Regions from separate parts of the Homo sapiens genome. Here regions 1, 2 and 3 are each linked to region 4. The links come from fine-mapping of genetic effects on gene expression. A gene starts in region 4. Each other region holds a variant in brackets. All regions are shown on one strand. Distances are between the middles of the regions.

Region 1 (2,681 bases), 37 kb before region 4:
GACGCCTCCGTCCCGGGGAGCAGGTCCTCGGCGGCAGACGTCCACAAGCACGGGAAGTACCCGCAGCACCTCGGGATGGCTGCACCGCAGTCCTGCATGTCTGGGCCTCGGTGCCGGCCAGGATGGAGAGCGCAGGAGGCCACCACCCCAGGCTGTGTGCCCCGGCCTGTCCAGCGGCTGCAAGCCTCCATGCCACTAAGGAAGCCATGCCAGGCTTCACAGAGGTCAGAAAAAGCGTTCCGTGCTTCCCACACGTTCACGGATCTTAAAACTCTTTATGTGGTCCCACAAGTCCAGGTGTCTGCCTGGTTAAATCATTTCCACCATTCACTCAGGCAATTGTGAAATGTATTACAGTGGATAGTCTTTAAAAATGCACCAAGGCTTCAAAATTAAAAACTATTCATATCCTTAACATTAGTGAGCTTTTAATTTAAAATAAATCTCGTGAGATCCTGAATGTCTAACAGTAGGCTGGCGGGGATAATGAGCCTCCTGGTAGAATGTTTACCTAGAGAAGGTCGCTTTCGACCAGTGGTCAGGAGGTAACAGGAGGGCTGGGGCCTGAGGGATGGGCAGAGGCCAACCGGGCAAAGGGCCAGGACAGTGTCCTCAAGCCGGGGCAGAGGAACATGCTGTGCAGGGGCCACGGGCGGTGGGGGCAGAGTTGGGCCACAGGAGCCTCCCTAACAGCGACCCCACGTCAGCAGGGGCCCACCCGAGAGCCTCAACCTGGGATACACAAAACATTGCTCTCAGTTCCACAGCAGCCCTTGGAGATGGGTCCTGTTACTGCTGCCATTTTGCAGGGACAAGCCCTGAGGCACAGGGAGCTGAAGGAAGGGCTGCTGGGAAGGAGGAAGTGGGGCCGGACCCAGGCGTTCCATAGTCATTCTGAATTGGGGACACCGTGCCGTGAAAACCCAGAAGATGGAAATGGGGCCCACAGAAGCCGGTAAAGGGCATCAAACACAGGAGCCTCCCACGCTGCTCCCATCCTCCGTGCGGCATGGGCTGCTGTTTCCAGCCTTGACCACGCTTCCCACCTGCACCCTGGTGGGCGGTCCCTCCAAGGGCTGCCTGGCTGTCAAGGCCACGTGAACTGCATCTCCTATTCTGAAACCATTTCCAGATCAGCACAGCCCTCAGCGTGACTGGACGGCTCCCCCCGTGCTGAGCCATGGCCGTGTCTCCTGCGCCACTGATGGTTGGTTTACGTTCACTCTTAGGTAACCTGGGCAAAGCACACAGCAA[G/C]TGCTCAATGAAGACAGCACACAGGGAGGCCCCAGCATGTGGCTGTGCATCCGAGGGTCCCCCTTCTTCACTCTCTGTGTGTAAAGCGACACTCAGTTTGCTCAAAACCATCCCTGATAAACTGATCACATTTTCCCTGCTCTGTGGAAGAGCCTGTCACAGTTCCTGAAAGCATCGGCAAACCTGATGTATGCAGTCTTACACACTTGTCGTTGTGTGAAGCTTCTTCTGGAGGGCAATACTCTAACGTGTATTCTTAAAATATTAAAAGTGAAAATTCCCTAGTCATTTCATGTAAATATACTCATCTTAGGGAAAAATCCTAAACGCAGAAAAATGTTTTAGGCACAAAATGTTCACTGCAGCCCTTTATGTAATAAGCAAAAAATTATACGGTAGCCCCCCCTTCTCTGAGAGGATACGTTTCAAGACCCCCCAACCCAGTGGAGGCCTGAAACGTGGAGTAGTCCGAAACCCGATTATACTGTGATTTTTCTAGACGGAAATCCCTACGATAAACTTCAATTTCTAAATTAGGCACAATAAGATATTTATAACAATAACTAATAATAAGATACAATCATAACACTATACTGTAACAGAAGTGATGTGGCTGTGGCCTCTCCCTCAGAATAGCTTAATATTTTCATACTGTAGCTGTCTGCAGGTAACAAACTGCAGAAAGTGAACTGCGGGTAACGAGGCACTGCCGGTGTGATTTACACGTCCAATAATGGGACTGGTGGAGGATGTTCTGGATCATCAGCATCATGAAATTTTACGCCGTCCGTAAATTGGACTCTAGAAACAACTGTGGTGCTGTGGACCCGTGGCCACAAGAAAGGTAAAGAGAAACGGGCAGGTGTAAAATTGCAAACACCATCTAACTGCAACTGTGCAAAACACAGGTAGGAAAGACGGCAATGTGCCAACCACGGACCGAAGCCCTGGGGGCCGTGGCCTGGTGAACTGCTCTTCCTTTCTTTGCCTTTTGTCCAACTGCACGGTGAGCAGCGCCTCATCCCCAGGCAGCAGTGTCATGAAGCCACTTACTTTGCTTTCCATCTTCTTCAGGTCTGAGAGGCAGGCAGAGGAGATCTCCATGCATTTCAAGGTCAAGGAAAAACGCGCCAATTCAAAAAGCAAAAGCATTCTGCAAACAAACAAACCAGCCAGCACCGGCTCAATAGGGGGCACAGGAAACATGGCTGCAGGCGAGAATCCATGTCCCCCGTTCAAGCAGAAGCAGGAAATAAAGGTAGGATAAGAAATAAATAAAATTAAGTTAATTAGAACAGAAGCCCTGTGGGGAGGCCCCAGCAGGGCTTCAAGCTACAGCACCGGAGCCCAGCAGTCTCCCGGGGCCAGCACAGTTGTGGAGGCTGCCCAGGGCCACGTCCCTACTGGACACCCTGCTCCTCGCTCTC
Region 2 (2,681 bases), 43 kb before region 4:
CCCAGCCTGGCCCCTGCACTGGGCTGGAGAGAGTGGGGCCGCCTGCGTTCCCAGAGCCACTGGCGAGTGCCCAGAGAAGCTCGGGCAGTGAGGATGCAACACACCTGCCGAACCCTGGCTCAGTCCCCGCACATGGGCCGTACGGCCCCGTGTCCCATTACCCAAAGCCAGCTCAGGGTCTCCCTGGGACAGATGTGATGGCTTCAGCTTTGACCCCCGTGATCCAGGGAGCCCCGTCCTGTGCCTCAGGCAGTGGCTCAACCCCATTCCCCAGAGCAGGGTGTGTTGAAGTCCTCGCCCCCAGGACTTCAGGGTATGACCTTCTTTGGAGGTAATTTGGGTCAAATGAGGTCATCAGGGTGGACCCTAGTCCAATCTGACTGGTGTCCTTCCAAAGGGAGGAAACGAGGACACAGACCCCCAGAGGGGATGGCCCTGTGAGGATGCGGGGAGGAGATGGCGTCCACAAGCCAAGGAAGAGCACTCAGGGGGAATCAGCCCTGCCCACGCCTTGACTTCCAGCCTGGGGCTGGGAGGAGTAAGTTCCCGTAGTCTAAGCAGCGGAGCCTGTGGGGTCTGTCCCGGCACACAGGGCACCCGACTTGACTGGCGTGTGCACAGAAGACCGTCGCTGGGCTTTGCCAGACCCGGCGGGCCGAGATCGAAGGACACTGCCGGTGCAAGGTCCTTGTGCATCCAGGGGGCGGTGGCAGGGAGCATGGGGACTGGGGAGGCCCCGGGGCAGCCTGGGAGCCATTCCAAGGTGGACCGTTCTGGGCTGGGAGAGCCCAGTGCAGAGCTCACCTTTGGCCTCATTCTCACTGTCCAGCACAATCTGAAACGCGTCAGGGGCTAAGGCCAGGCCTGCATTCACCAGGAGGGCCCGCTTCTTCCTGACGCTGTCCTTTGGTGTAGCTTTTTTTGCCTGTGAAAAGCAGAGACTGATGAGCAAGGGGCCGCTGGACTTTCCACAGCACCTTCTCCAACTTCTGGAGCCTCCTGGCCTTTGGCAGGGGCCTGTGTGGTCCTCGTGCTCATAGACACAGTGACAGCTCGGTCCCAGGCCTCCTTGCTTCAGGCAGCCCTGGGCGGCTCCCGCCCTGCTGTGCCCTCAGAGCCCCGCCCCGGCCCCATGCTGGGGCTGCAGCACCCAGCCTCCCTCACTTCCCCGGGGCGGCACCTGCTCAACGGCCATGATGGCCTTGTCCTCTGCGCGCTCAGGGGCCTGGTATAGCGTGGTGCACAGACGCAGCCGGGTGGAGGCCATCTGGATCCTGTCCCGGTAGAGGCCCAGGCTGTCCAGGCGCGCGGCTTTCCGGAGGTGCTCCGTGGCGGGCTCCAGCCGGTCCTCGTCCTCCTC[G/A]ATCTGCGCCATCTCCATGTGCACTTGACAGCGGAGAAGCGTCATGAGGCTGCGGGGGTGGCGTGGCATCAGGGGCCCTGGCGGCGCTGCGCCTCTGTCAGGCTGGGGTCACACCCTCCAGAGGAAGGCCTGCAGTGGCCCCAGAGTGTAGGGCAGGCTTGGTGCCCGGTGCCCCTGGCTTTCTGCCATCCTTCCAGTGATGTCCCTACCTGGCCCTGGGGACTCACAAATGGGGACAAGGAGAGAAGCCCCTGCAGACCGCAGAGGCCTCGGCAGCTCACGACGGCAGCCCCTGGAAGGAAACCTGGGCGCTAGTGCAAGACTGCCCGGCTCTCTGCCTGGGGACAACTTCCTGAAGTGTGGGGTGTGGTTCCCACAGGCCACGGCGGCAGGGGTCGGGGTGCAGGGCTGCGAAGGAGGCTAGGGTCTGGAGAGGAAGGGCCGTGCGGAGCAGCCCAACCAGCCCGTGTGGGGGTTCCCTGGACCCCCTGGCCTTGAGCAGCCATGTAGGGGTACCCCGGAACCCCTGGCCTCAAGCAGCCATGTGGGGGTGCCCCGGACGCCCTGGCCTCGAGCAGCCATGTGGGGGTGCCCTGGAACCCCTGGCCTTGAGCAGCCATGTGGGGGTGCCCTGGAACCCCTGGCCTCGAGCAGCCATGTGGGGGTGCCCTGGAACCCCTGGCCTCGAGCAGCCATGTGGGGGTGCCCTGGAACCCCTGGCCTCGAGCAGCCCATGTGGGGGTGCCCTGGAACCCCTGGCCTTGAGCAGCCATGTGGGGGTGCCCTGGACCCCCTGGCCTTGAGCAGCCATGTGGGGGTGCCCTGGAACCCCTGGCCTTGAGCAGCCATGTGGGGGTGCCCTGGAACCCCTGGCCTTGAGCAGCCATGTGGGGGTGCCCTGGAACCCCTGGCCTCACGCAGCCCTTGTGGGGGTGCCCCGGACCCCCGGCCTCGAGCAGGCTGTGTGTGACAGGAGCCTGCGTTTGATGGCCCCAGGCTTGAGAAGCAGTTCTAGACACAGCTGAGCCGGGATCCAGGGTTCATTCTGTGCTGTGGGAAGTCGAAGGAAGGCCCAGCAGGGGTGTGAGGGGTGTGGTCACCATGTTTTAGGGTATGTGTCTGTGTGAAATGAGCTGGAGTGATGCTGGCCTGACACAGACTGTGCTAAGTTAAGGGTGCATGTTCTTAGCCCCAGAGAAATCTTCCATTCCTCCAAAAGGTATAGTCGAGAAACCAAGAAGCCAATAGAGAAAACTAAATAGAACTCTAGAAAAATTCAGGGAGCCCCAGAGAAGGTGGGAAGGAGCACTGGCAGTGCAGG
Region 3 (2,681 bases), 33 kb before region 4:
CTCCCCACGCAGAGCCTGGACCTTCCTCCTCGCCACACAGAGCCTGGGCCTTCCTCCTCCCCACACAGAGCCTGGGCCTTCCCCACACTCCCCACACAGAGCCTGGGCCTTCCCCACACTCCCCACGCAGAGCCTGGGCCTTCCCCACACTCCCCACGCAGAGCCTGGGCCTTCCCCACACTCCTCACGCAGAGCCTGGGCCTTCCCCACACTCCCCACGCAGAGCCTGGGCTTTCCTCCTCCCCACACAGAGCCTGGGCCTTCCTCCTCCCCAAAAAGAGCCTGGGCCTCCCCACACTCTCCACTCAGAGACTGGGCCTTCCCCACATTCCTCACACAGAGCCTGGGCCTTCCTCCTCTCTACACAGAGCCTGGGCCTCCCCACCCTCCCCACACAGAGGCTAGGCCTCCCAATACTTCTCACACAGAGCCTGGGCCTTCCTCCTCCCCACACAGAGCCTGGGCCTTCCCCATACAGAGGCTAGGCCTCCCCACACTTTTCACACAGAGCCTGGGCCTCCCTACACTCCCCACACAGAGCCTGGGCCTTCTTCCTCCCCACACAGAGCCTGGGCCTCCCTCCTCTCCACACAGAGCCTGGGCCTCCCCACACTCCCCACGCAGAGCCTGGGCCTTCCTCCTTGCCACACAGAGCCTGGACCTTCCTCCTCCCCACACAGAGCCTGGGCCTTCCTCTTCCCCACACAGAGCCTGGGCCTCCTTACACTCCCCACACAGAGCCTGGGCCTTCCCCACATTCCCCACATAGAGCCTGGGCTTTCCTCCTCCCCACGCAGAGGCTGGGCCTTCCTCCTCCACACACAGAGGCTGGGCCTTCCTTGTCGCCACACAGAGCCTGGGCCTCCCCACACTCCCCACACAGAGGCTGGGCCTCCCCAGACTTCTCACACAAAGCCTGGGCCTTCCTGCTCCCCACACAGAGCCTGGACCTTCATCCTCCCCACACAGAGCCTGGGCCTTCCTCCTCCCCACACAGAGCCTGGGCCTTCCCCACACAGAGGCTAGGCCTCCCCACACTTCTCACACAGAGCCTAGGCCTCCTCACACTTCTCACACAGAGCCTGGGTCTCCCTACACTCCCCACACAGAGCCTGGGCCTTCCTCCTCCCCACACAGAGCCTGGGCCTCCCTCCTCTCCACACAGAGCCTGGGCCTCCCTCCTCTCCACACAGAGCCTGGGCCTCCCCACATTCCCCACATAGAGCCTGGGCTTTCCTCCTCCCCACGCAGAGGCTGGGCCTTCCTCCTCCACACACAGAGGCTGGGCCTTCCTTGTCGCCACACAGAGCCTGGGCCTCCCCACACTCCTCACACAGAGCCTAGGCCTTCCACCTCTTCACACAGAGGCTGAACCTTCCCAACACTCCTGACACAGGGCCTGGGTCTTCCCAC[G/A]CTCCCCATACAGAGCCTGGGCCTTCTTCCTCCCCACATAGATCCTGCAGCTTCCTCCTCCCCACACAGAGCCTGGGCTTCCCCACGCTCCCCACACAGAGCCTGGGCCTTCCTACCATGCGACAAGCCCGTAGGCGTGCCGCCAACCGCACCTGCAGTCACCAATCAGGGTCTTTGCAGAAACTGACAGGCTGAGGCTAAAATTTGTATCCACATGCAAGGACCCACAGTGCTCCAGACAACTTCAAGAAAGAGCACAGCGGGTGCTCTCAGCTCTCCACTCTAAGGCTTCCTGTTGAGCTGCAGGGATCAGGATCACGCTCCTCCGGTGGAGATTAGGCCAGGGTTTCCCTCCGGGACGCCTCTCTTCCAGGAGGAGCCTGTCCATTGTGTCCCTGCAGCTGCCCGCTAGATGAAGAGCAGCCGCCCACAGTGTCTCCAGACATTGCCAAATGTCCTTGGGGAGCAGGTCTACATGTCTTCTGCTGTTTCCCGGGGAGTAATCACAGTCTTACCGGGAACACAATTGGCGGCTGCTGGCAGCGACTCAACTCGGCCCTCAGTGTGGTGTGACCATCCTCCCTGCATCCCTGGGTAGCTGTGGGCAGGAGGCTGCTTTGGGGTGGGGTGCGGACGCTTCTCCGCCCCTCGTCCCTGCCCACCTCCTCCTCCCCCTGCTCTGCTGTTGGGCCCTCTCAGGTCCTGGCAGGCCTGGCATCACAACACTGGCCTCTCCGTCCTACCTGAGCTCCAGCGCACAGGCCTGCTGGGCAGGTCGGGAAGAGAGAATCCGTAAAAGTGCCTGAGAATGCCGCCTGTGGACAGACCTCGGAACAGGGCTATTTACACTGGTCCCAAGACCTCTCGTCGGAGCGCCTGGCCACAGAAGGGGATGCTCGGCCAGGGCCACGGCCACGCTTGGCCGGACTTCAGTTAGAACAACCTGGAGGGTCTGATGGAAGACGTAAACTCCTTCCAGAACAATATATCCACACACATCCCCATGTACACATGCACTCATACCCCTCCCAAAAACAGACCCACCAGCAGGCTGGCCCTGTGCCCCTGCGGCCCAGGCTGTGGCCCAGCAGCCACCCTGCGGTCCTGGGGCCCCTCCCTCGAGGAGCCTGCAGCTGAGCAGCGGAGACCTCAATGTTGGGCAGGTGCCACCTCCCTGATGAGACCACGAACGTGCTGGCGTCTGGCGCCCCTCGCTAGCACTGATGAAGCAAGCTGTCCCACCAGGACCGAGGCCTGAACCCACAGGA
Region 4 (2,681 bases):
CCTGTCAGGATTTAATACAAGGGAGGCTGAACTGCCGGGGAGCTCAGAAATGCACGAGCAAGACATGAGCGTAGGGGAGGTTCCCGGGGTGCCTCGACTGTCCAGGCTTGCAGCTGCAGGTGGAGAGGAGGCAAGGCTGTTTGCCCATTTCAGCCTCAGAACAGTCACAGCCCAGCAGCCGGCGGCCTGTCCATGATGACCATTCTGCTCCGGAGCCTACACAGAGGGCACTGTTCACCCTGCGGCCGCCTCCCTGCGCTCCAAGGATCAGCCTCATGATAAGGTCAGAAAGAACCTTGGCTTTAGGGTCTGTCCCGCGTGGCCACCTGTTCTGTATGTTAAAACCGACTTGCCTGCCATTTCTCTTCTTATCCCTCACACCCACCCACCCAGCCTGGGCCAGGCCTGGTTCTAGGGCGCGGCCAACGGTCGGGGACAAAATATTCATGGTTTCTGGGTTCGTGGTCAGGCAGTTTGGGTGGACACAAGCAAGTGCCACGTAAAATAAGCAACGGTGAGAATGGTTATGAGTCGCAATGACACTGTGAGGCACTTTAACAGGCTCATCGGCGTGGCCCTAGGCCCTGCCCTCTGTGAGCCCAGGTCACCCCCAGGACGCCCAGCGGCTGCTGCGCCACCTCCCTCCTCCCACTGTGGCCAGGCCTGGCGGGCGGGTGCTGCCTCCCGACACGCACACTTTGCCGGGGCAGGTCCGCGCCAGCGCCGTCGCCAGAAGAGCCTCACAAAGACGCGGCTGCCACCGTTTGGCGTCTTTGAAGACTGTTCAGCAGGTCTGAGGATGAGCTGCTCTGAGGGTTTTTCCCAACTTACCATTTTGATACAACGTCAAACATATGTAAAAGTCACAAGAATACGACAAGGAACTGCCATTAGAGCCTTAGGCGAATTCACCAACTGTTCCCACTTCTCACCGGTGTCACCTTCCCACCGTTCCCACTCCTCACTGGCGTTACCTTCCCTCCGTTCCCACTTCTCCTCAACGGCGTTACATTCCTGCGGTTCCCACTTCTCACCGGTGTCACCTTCCCACCGTTCCCACTCCTCACTGGCGTTACCTTCCCACCGTTCCCACTCCTCACTGGCGTTACCTTCCCTCCGTTCCCACTTCTCCTCAACGGCGTTACATTCCTGCGGTTCCCACTTCTCACCGGTGTCACCTTCCCACCGTTCCCACTCCTCACTGGCGTTACCTTCCCTCCGTTCCCACTTCTCCTCAACGGCGTTACCTTCCTGCGGTTCCCACTTCTCACCGGTGTCACCTTCCCACCGTTCCCACTCCTCACTGGCGTTACCTTCCTGCCATTCCCACTTCTCCTCACGGCGTTACCTTCCTGCCGTTCCCACTTCTCCTCAATGGTGTTTCCTTCCCGCCTTTCCCACTTCTCACCAGCGTTACCTTCCCGCCATTCCTACTTCTCCTCAACGACGTTACCTTCCCTCTGTTCCCACTTCTCACTGGCGTTACCTTCATGCTGTTCCTACTTCTCCTCATGCCATTACCTTCCTGCCATTCCCACTTCTCCTCACGCATTACCTTCCTGCTGTTCCCAATTCTCTCTGGCGTTACCTTCCTGCTGTTCTGCCGTTCACGCGTGTTTATATGTGTTTGCATGTGTTTACATGTGTTTGCATGTGCCTGTGTCTGCATATGCGCATTTCCCTGAATCGACGGAGGGTGAGTTGAGAGTTGAAGAAATTATGCCATTTTACTGCTAAATACCTCAGCGTGTACTTCCTGACAAAGACACTTCTTTTCATTACCACAGTATAGCTGTCAAAATCAGGAAAGTTCACACCAATGAAATATCTAATCCAGAGTCCATACTCAGATTTCATCAATTGTGCCTAAACATCCCTTTAGCTTTTTCCCACTACATCCTGGATCTAATCCAGGACCGCGGGCCTATGACCTTTTCAAAGTCCTAATTTCCATCCTTCTTCAACAGTTCTTGTAGCCTTTCTTTGTATTTCTTGACCTTGACATTTTTGTGAGTGTTTGTCAGCGACTTTGCAGAGTGCCCCTCAGTCTGGGTTGACGTTCGGATTTTCCATTTTATTCTAAGGTGGTTTTGGTAAATTGTATTATTCAAGGACTTTCCCCCATTTCATTGTAATTGCCAAATGTATTGGCATAAACTGGTTTATCATGTTCCCTGATTTCCCTTTTAGTGACTGTAGAATCTCTATATTTCCTCTTTCATTTCTGATATTGGCAATTTAGGCTTTTCCCTCTTTATTTTTCTTTTATCTTGGTTGATCTGTTTTGTGTTTTTGTTTGTTTAAGACAGGATCTCACTCTGTCTCCTGGGCTGCAGTGCAGTGGTGCAATCATAGCTCACTGCAGCCTCAAACTCCTGGGCTCAAGTGATCCTCCTGCCTCAGTCTCCTGAATAGCTGGGACTACAGGCATGCAACACCACACCTGGCTACTTAAAGAAAATATTTTTTGGAGAGATGGGGTCTTGCTGTGTTGCCCAAGCTGGTCTTGAACTCCTGGCCTCAAGCAATCCTCCTGCCTTGGCCTCTGAAAGTGCTGGGATTACAAGTGTGAGCTTCGGTGCCAGGCCTCCTGATCAGTCTTATGGGGTCTGGCTCTGTCACCCAGGCTGGAGTACAATGGTGCAATCTCAGCTCACTGCAACCTCTGCCTCCCGGGTTCA

Alleles and levels. Positions count from the first base shown, and alleles are read on the strand shown. Sizes are in standard deviations (SD) of each study's normalised expression. Not every link is listed here.
For the expression in sun-exposed skin of the gene that starts at base 1,078 in region 4, allele G in region 1 goes with a lower level than allele C (large effect, 1.6 SD a copy in GTEx).
With allele G in place of A in region 3, the expression in monocytes after R848 of the gene that starts at base 1,078 in region 4 is lower (moderate effect, 0.73 SD a copy in Quach 2016).

The links. PIP is the estimated chance that this variant, and not a neighbour inherited with it, causes the effect. A credible set is the group of variants that fine-mapping cannot tell apart.
Region 1: its variant is the best candidate, but not a certain one, in a credible set for the expression of LINC01166 in sun-exposed skin (GTEx, PIP 0.54).
Region 2: its variant is the best candidate, but not a certain one, in a credible set for the expression of LINC01166 in unexposed skin (GTEx, PIP 0.60).
Region 3: its variant is the best candidate, but not a certain one, in a credible set for the expression of LINC01166 in monocytes after R848 (Quach 2016, PIP 0.75).

What each region holds. Positions count from the first base shown.
Region 1 is chr10:132,927,398-132,930,078 of GRCh38, forward strand. It overlaps CFAP46 (cilia and flagella associated protein 46), which reads right to left. Exons shown (of 58, transcript NM_001200049.3): 9 at 2,308-2,407. Among named protein-coding and RNA genes, the nearest start is that of CFAP46, 14 kb to the right of the region's middle. The variant G/C (reference allele first, on the strand shown) is at 1,255.
Region 2 is chr10:132,921,300-132,923,980 of GRCh38, forward strand. It overlaps CFAP46 (cilia and flagella associated protein 46), which reads right to left. Exons shown (of 58, transcript NM_001200049.3): 12 at 1,181-1,409; 13 at 805-925. Among named protein-coding and RNA genes, the nearest start is that of CFAP46, 20 kb to the right of the region's middle. The variant G/A (reference allele first, on the strand shown) is at 1,361.
Region 3 is chr10:132,931,131-132,933,811 of GRCh38, forward strand. All of the region lies in intron 8 of CFAP46 (cilia and flagella associated protein 46), which reads right to left. Among named protein-coding and RNA genes, the nearest start is that of CFAP46, 10 kb to the right of the region's middle. RefSeq lists an enhancer at 803-872. The variant G/A (reference allele first, on the strand shown) is at 1,414.
Region 4 is chr10:132,964,212-132,966,892 of GRCh38, forward strand. LINC01166 (long intergenic non-protein coding RNA 1166) reads right to left here and starts at 1,078. Exons shown (of 2, transcript NR_120627.1): 1 at 975-1,078. LINC01168 (long intergenic non-protein coding RNA 1168) reads left to right here and starts at 1,323. Exons shown (of 3, transcript NR_046231.1): 1 at 1,323-1,696.